Homo sapiens: one gene and its partner. The protein of the gene in region 2 purifies or fractionates together with the protein of the main gene of each other region. This does not show direct contact. Each region holds a gene or a part of one and is shown on either strand. Other genes may lie near its edges.

What was found. The genes of interacting proteins can lie anywhere in the genome.
Region 1: the proteins of NPC2 (region 2) and HK3 purify together in Homo sapiens (affinity purification with mass spectrometry; 2 studies listed by BioGRID and IntAct, with this or other methods). This does not show direct contact.

The regions. Positions count from the first base shown.
Region 1 is NC_000005.10:176,882,198-176,885,846, forward strand, and holds part of HK3 (hexokinase-3), read right to left. Parts: coding exon of another isoform or gene 3,629-3,649; exon of another isoform or gene 3,614-3,628; intron 2,621-3,613; exon of another isoform or gene 2,547-2,620; intron 1,938-2,546; coding exon 1,842-1,937; intron 1,673-1,841; coding exon 1,573-1,672; intron 1-1,572. UniProt on the Homo sapiens protein: Catalyzes the phosphorylation of hexose, such as D-glucose and D-fructose, to hexose 6-phosphate (D-glucose 6-phosphate and D-fructose 6-phosphate, respectively).
Region 2 is NC_000014.9:74,486,714-74,490,362, reverse strand, and holds part of NPC2 (NPC intracellular cholesterol transporter 2 isoform 2 precursor), read left to right. Parts: intron 1-3,649. UniProt on the Homo sapiens protein: Intracellular cholesterol transporter which acts in concert with NPC1 and plays an important role in the egress of cholesterol from the lysosomal compartment.

The sequences.
Region 1 (3,649 bases), on a different chromosome or scaffold from region 2:
CCGAGATGGCAACGATTCGGGCTCACTCTCTCTACCTCTCATGCTCACAGCCTGTCCCTGGTCCTGGTCCTTCTTCCTTCCCGACATCCCTCGTGCAGACCCTGCCAGCTCCAAGCCCTGGGGACCTTCACTGCCTTTCCCACCAACATCACCATCAGTGCATCCACCATGCCACCCCCAAGTGCTCCTACAATGCCCAGCTGTCCTGTCATTCCCCTGGGAGACATGTGACATCCCCCGCCCTCGCCCCTAGCTCTCTGCGGTTGAGAGGCCGAAGCTCCCTGGACCGGCCTGCCAGGCCCTTAATCCAACTAAGAGGTGCTGGGCCAAGAGCAGGGGACACAGAGAAATCAGAGACGAGGAGCCCCACAGTCTGGCCAGAGGTCAGGCAATGAATAGCCAGCTCTGACAGAGCCTCTGTGCCCCCGTGGAAGCACCAAGGAGAGCATCGTGGGAGCCCAGACCACGGGGCGAGTCTCTGCCAACAGGATCAGGAAAGCAACAGAGAGGAAGTGACTGAATCCAAGAAGCACAGAAAGAAAAAGGCATTCCAGGCAGAGGACGCACCCTGGATGAGGGCGTCTCCTTCCTTTCTCTGACACAGCTTCAGCTCCAGGAAGGTGGGCTCCTTGCTGGCCCCACCTGGAGCTCCTCTGTCCAGCTGTTTATGCACACAGCAACCTGGGCATGCCTCTCCCAAGTGCCTAACCGTGCCAGGTGCTGGGTTCAAAAACCTCCCCCTCAAGAGAGGCTGCCACATGCCTCGTGTTGAGAGACCAATGCCCCAGGAGCTGTGGGATCCCTCCTCCCCAACAGAGCCAAATCCTTTCTTTCAGGGCTTTCAAGTTCCACTCATCCTGGGACCCACTCCTTCCTGATCTTGGCCTCGCTGCTGCCCACGTGTAGAATCAAGTCACTCTCTGACCGCTACGTGTTGTTCTGGGCTTAACCCTTGCTGAGTGGTCGGTTCTGAGAAGGCAGAAATTGCCTCTTGTTTTATGTGTCTTCCTATTCCTCTGTCCAGTCCCCTGTGGACACAGGGTAGGTGCTTAATAAGGATGGAATCTTGGACTGTCTGAAGGACCCTCATTGCTCATTGGTCCCCTGCCCCCGCCCAGCTCCAAACACCAGGTGTGTACCATGAGCCAGGGACCATGCTGTATTTTGTCCCCTCCCATTTCATCCTCATGATGCCTTGAGACAGGCATTGTTACTCTTATCTCCATCTTAGAGATGAGGAAACTGAGGCTCTGGTGACTTGCCCAAGGTCATACAGGTGGAAACACAAAGCTAGTATTTCCACCCAAATCTGTACAACTCCAAAGCTCAGATTCATTTATCAGATGGGCAAAGTGAAGTTCAGAGAGCTTAAATGACCATGAGTCAGTCACTGAGCTGGACTATACACCCAAGCTCCAAACTGCCAGCCCAAGAGATTGTTCCAGAGCCCTACTGGGTCAGACCAGAGCAATCCCACATCCCCACCGCCAAGGAAACATCCAACCAGAGGAATCAACAGAAGGCAGCAAATTGCCAAGCAGTAGGGGCATGAAAGGGCAGGGCCCTCCTCACCGACAATGAGGCCTATCTCGCAACGGGGGTCCTCATAGCCACAGGACATCATGGTCCCCACCGTGTCATTGACAATGGCAACCACATTCAGCTCCACTGCCTGCACACAAAAGGATGCTGCTAGTTGCTGGGCAACGCGGTCGTCACAGCAACCAGCACTGGACCCAGAGGTCTCTACCGCAGAGGGCTCCCCCCTCAGAAAGTAGGAGACTCTTTGCTCCCCTCAAGGCCTGCCACAGCCCCAAAGCACCCCTAGAACAGGCTCCTACCTGTCTGCGAGTGATGGCTTCCCGCAACAGACTCACGACATCTTGGCCCTCGCAGTCTGATGCCTTGAAACCCTTGGTCCAGTTCAGGAGGATGCCCTGGGGTGAGACCGAGAGGAAGTGGCAGGAAGCTGGAGGCCCCTTCAGGCTCACTCTGCCTCTGCAAAACCTGCATCCATCACAAGCCTAGGCTTTCCACCCTCCCCAAGCACAATTCCTTGCCTACTTTGCTGTATGGTTGAAGGCCTTGCCCTCTGCCCGCTCCCTACTCCCCAGGAGGCTTTCGGTGTGCAAAAACCTATTAATAACCATCTAACCTACATTTTCCATTATTAGTTCCAGACAGTCAGAGGGTCTGGCCATTTTAAGACGTGTGCCCGGAAGGAATGGCCCTTTGTAATTGGGTTAGGAATTAACAGAGCTGGTAAAGTGAGTGCTGTGTGTGAGACAGGGGAGGACAGAGAAGGCTCAGAGGCCCAGATGACAGCAGATCCCACCCTTTCAGAAAGAACTCCAAGTTACTCTAGAGGAAGGAATTCTCAGCTTCAGGGATAGAGCCGTGTCAATGGGCGAGTCACTCATGTGTTCCAAATGCAGGGGCAGGAGGAATGGAAAAGCCAGAACCCAGGCCCCTGGGCAGGATGAAGGCTGAGTGCCCAGATTGTGAGAAAAGGGACTTAAACTTAGTGACACGGGGCTCAACTTTACCTGGAAAGGAATGCTGTTTTCTTAGTGTGCGTCCTCTGAGGGAGGGGGCAGGGGGAGCAGGAATTAGTCTACAGCTGTTGGGAGAAAATTACTGCTTTGCTCAGAGGAGGAGCATGGAGGGTAGGTCAGGAAATCTTTGGGGCAGAAGATTTTAGAAATAGTAAGCAACGTTTTCCTCCAATAATATGTCCTTTTATCCCGTTTTTTATTGTCCTAGGCTCATTGTCTCAAAAACAGAAAGCAGAGAATGTGATAGAGTGAGAGAAAGAACCCGTTTGAGAGAGACCAGATGATGAGTAAGAGCCCTGTGTGGGCTGCTCTCCCTAGAGTGGGGAAGGGGAGGCAAAGGGGGAAGTCAGACCCAGGTTGCTGATGACTTCCTGAGACAGGTGTCCTATGCCCTCCCCACTGGGCTGAACCCCTGTTCAGAAGGGATCTGAGAAATCTGAGAACAGAGGAGGCCTCTGCCCTCCTTCCCCAGATAATGCACAGGAAGGTGTCGAGACTCAAGAGAGGAAGTGGCAGAGGCAAGTGCCCAAAGAGCAGGGCCCGGGGCACCTCCCTGAGTTCCCACATCCCTGCAAATTCTGCACAGCAAAGGCTGCTGCAGAGCCAAAGGGGCTCCTGGGGAAGGCAATCCCCACACTGGTTAAGTTTTCACCCCTGAAAATAATGTGGGCCCAACATTTTTTTTTTAAGATGGAGTCTTGCTCTGTTGCCCAGGCTGGAGTGCAATGGCACAATCTCAGCTCACTGCAACCTCTGCCTCCCGGGTTCAAGTGATTCTCCTGCCTCAGCCTCCCGAGTAGCTGGAATTACAGGCACACACTGCCACGCCCGGCTAATTTTTGTATTTTTAGTAGAGATGGGGTTTCAGCATCTTGGCCAGGCTGGTCTTGAAATCCTGATCTCATGATTCACCCGTCTCAGACTCTCAAAGTGCTGGGATTACAAGCGTGAGCCACCGCGCCCAGCCTTCAGCACAGAAATTAAGTTCAGTTACAGAAAATTAATAAGACTATATTTCTTGCCCCCACCCCGCCCCCCGATTTGCACATGGAGTCTCACCTGCTTCTCACATCTTACAAGGAATAATCAAAAGG
Region 2 (3,649 bases):
GAAGCAAGCTGAGGGATAAAGGACTGCAAGGTACTATTTACTGACCTAGCTGGAGCAGTGTTGGTCAGTGTGATGATAGTTAAAGAGACTGTTCCACCCAAGGGTAGGTACAGGCAGCAAAGAACATCTACTTAGATTTCTGAGTTCATATCATACTTTTATAGTACTGAGCTAATCTGGTGACTGACTGCATAGCAGATAATGTACTCTCAACCTGCAGTTTGCCTCTGTCTTCATGCATTCCACTTTTGAGACAGAAAGAGTCCATCCTATTGGCTAGAAACATAATTTCTATCCACAAAGTATATTTGAGGTGAGAGGTCCAGTTTTTGTGTCAGAAGGGAACTTGCTAACCTACCCAGGAGCAGCTATTCTAGATTAAACTCATGGACTAAATCCAGATATGATAATAATAGTAAATATATGTATCACTATGTTCCAAACACTTACCTAAGATCTGTATTTGTGTTAGCTCAGCTACACCATTATCTCCAGAGAGGTAAAGTATCTTGCCTTGAGGCTATACAGTAAGTAGCAGAGATAGTGAGATTTCAAACCCAGGCATCCGGCACCAGAGTCTGCCTCTCAGCAATGATGGCTGAATGGCAGAACTTAACTTACCCTGTTACAGGCACTGTTATCAGGCAGTTCACCTGCATTCTCTCCCATTCAACTGCCCAGTCTCTGGGGCAGGAGGAAATGGGATTTTTAAAGGCTTTATTTAAACCTTTTTTGGTCAAGCATTTATTGTATACAAGTACTTTTGTCCTTGGTTAGACTGAGATTAAAATACATACATACACACACAGACACACACACACACACTTATTTTAAGAACGCAGGTTCCCAAAATCGAGTATACATCTGTAGATTGCAGATGTGTGCTTAAAATCAGTTTTTGAAACTACTTAGAAACAACCTGGACAAGTCAGATGAATCCAATTTCTTTTCTTAAATTTTTTAATTTTGAAAAATATGTATTTGTTTTGAGGATTCCCAGGGATAAATCCTATTTCTGACTCTTTCTAGTACCTTCTTAGGTCTCATCCTTATGTTTTTAACATATGCAGTATTTGCAAGTGTATCATTCCCAGCAGCTATATAGACCTAGGCCAAGTTAATATTTCAGAGGAAATGAAACCCAGACTCAGGTAGCAGTATTCTTCTTTAATGCAGCTGGCACTTCTGCCATCTTGGCTGTGTGAGTCAGTGCTATTTGGAGTTAAGCTTAACTTGTGCCCTAAGCTTGTACTGAAACTATAAAGACCTTAACCTCTGTACTCCTCTTCATCCCCTTGATTCTTGGAAAAAATCCAGATCTTAACAACCTTAGTCAAGATTTAAGGTACTTCCTGTTGTTTTTGGAGCCAAAATATTTCATGACTCATAAGTGGGCCTTAAAGAACAGGACTAAATCATTGAAGAAACTGCAGAAGTGCAGTGAAAATGGTGCAGTTCCCAATTCAGAAGTGGGAGGTAGTTCCTCTCTTAAGGGTCATTCCTAGTTCAGAGATGGTAGGTGGTTTTTCTGTTTAGGGTCACTCCTCTGTTCAGTGTTAAGTGGTAGTTCCTCTTAAATTCCATAGTCTGCTTACTCGGAAGTGAGTAGGCTTCTGGAATCAGTCTTATTTTATTTTATTTTATTTTTTGAGACAGAGTCTTGCTCTGTCACCCAGGCTGGAGTGCAGTGGCGCAATCTCGGCTCACTGCAACCTCTGCCTCCCCAGTTCAAGCGATTCTCCTGCCTCAGCCTCCTGAGTAGCTGGGATTACAGGTGAGCACCACCATACCTGGCTAATTTTTGTATTTTTATTAGAGACGAGGTTTCACCATGTTGGTCAGGCTGGTCTCGAACTCTTAACCTCTTGATCCACCTGCCTTGGCCTCCCAAAGTGCTGGGATTATAGGCATGAGCCACCATGCCCACCCTTGAATCAGCCTAATTTTAAAAGCCAAGACTGATATTCTGACACTTTTCATCGTTTTACCTATACCTTTAATAGTGCTGCTTATTTCTCTAGGAAGTCAAGTTGGGGTGAAAGAAAGAAGGGATTCCAGGAAGACAAAATACTGGGCAAAGGATTTACCAGCAGTTTGGGAGAAAGGGTACAAAATCTGGATAGAAGATACTTCATCACTGAAAATCACAGAGGATATAGGGGTTGAACCTCTACGATAGAAAGAGAATCATGGTGAGGGGCAAAGAGGCGATGCTGAATTAAGAAACCTGAAAAGTTGAGTTTGAGACAGACCTTCATCCAGAGTCCTCAAGTAGTTCTCAGATGCAAATTTCCTTGGGGTGTCCTTCCATTCATCAACATGGCTGCGTATTTAAAGCTTCTTTCAGGTTCCGGTAACAAGGGCTTCCAAGTCAGGCCCACCCATTGAGTCTTCGATCTGCCCCTTCCAGGCAATGTGACCTTGGACAAATCTCAGTAATCTTTGCTCTTCTGGTTTCTAACCCCTAAAACAAGGATGATAAATACCATTGTTGTGAGATGTTTTCTTCAGATGCCTCTGCTTTCCTTCATTCTTGCTAGTCAAGGTACAATTTCCATAGAGTCTAAAAATGAATGATTCAGGAACTAAAAACTCTTGAAGCCAGATTCAAGAAAGGTTCAGTCTGTTTTGGGATCTGGCAGACTTTCCAAGCAATAATAGCAGACTCCCTCAATCAGTGTTTGCTCATGTAGAACTTGAGGTAGAAAGATGTTGTAATTCATTTCTGATCTTCCTCCGCGGAGTTTCAGGCTCTACATTTGCTTTCTAGCTGTTTCCGCATAAAGTGCGGTTTTTGGCCAGGTGCGGTGGCTCATGCCTGTAATCCCAGGACTTTGGGAGGCCAAGGTGGGCAAATTGCTTGAGCCTAGGAGTTTGAGACCAGCCTGGGCAACATGGTGAAACCCTGTCTCTACAAAACACAAAAATTAGCCGGGTGTGGTGGTGCATGCCTATTGTTCTAGCTACTCAGGAGGATGGAGTAGGAGGATCACTTGAGCCTGGGACGGTTGAGGCTGCAGTGAGCTGAGATTGTGCCATTGCATCTAGCCTGGGTGACAGAGTGAGACCCTGTCTCAAAAAAAAAAAACAAAAAAAAACCACAAAAACAAAACAGGGAGGGTGCAATGACTCACGCCTGTAATCCTAGCACTTTGGGAGGCCTAGGCAGGCAGACCACGAGGTCAGGAGATCAAGACCATCCTGGCCAACATAGTGAAACCCTGTCTCTACTAAAATACAAAAACTTAGCCGGGCATGATGGCACTCGCCTGTAGTCCCAGCTACTCAGGAGGCTGAGGCAGGGAATGGTTTGAACCCGGGGGGTGGAGGTTGCAGTGAGCTGAGACTGTGCCACTGCACTCCAACCTGGTGACAGAGCAAGACTCCATCTCAAAAAAAAAAAAAATGTAGTTGTTCCTGTAGTGAACAACTTTCATCAGATTTACATGCTAATCTATATGCTAGAAAAAGAAAGGGAAAATAGGAATATTTTCATCCAAAGGAAGGTTGAAGCAAACGTCTTCAAGGTTTAAGTTTAAACTGTGACCCTTACCATTAAGAATGCGAGATAAGACTCTAGGAATGTTTGGAATTTCTCTGATTGAAGTTTAATTCCTTTAATATGATCATTTATGGATATGGTCTTGAT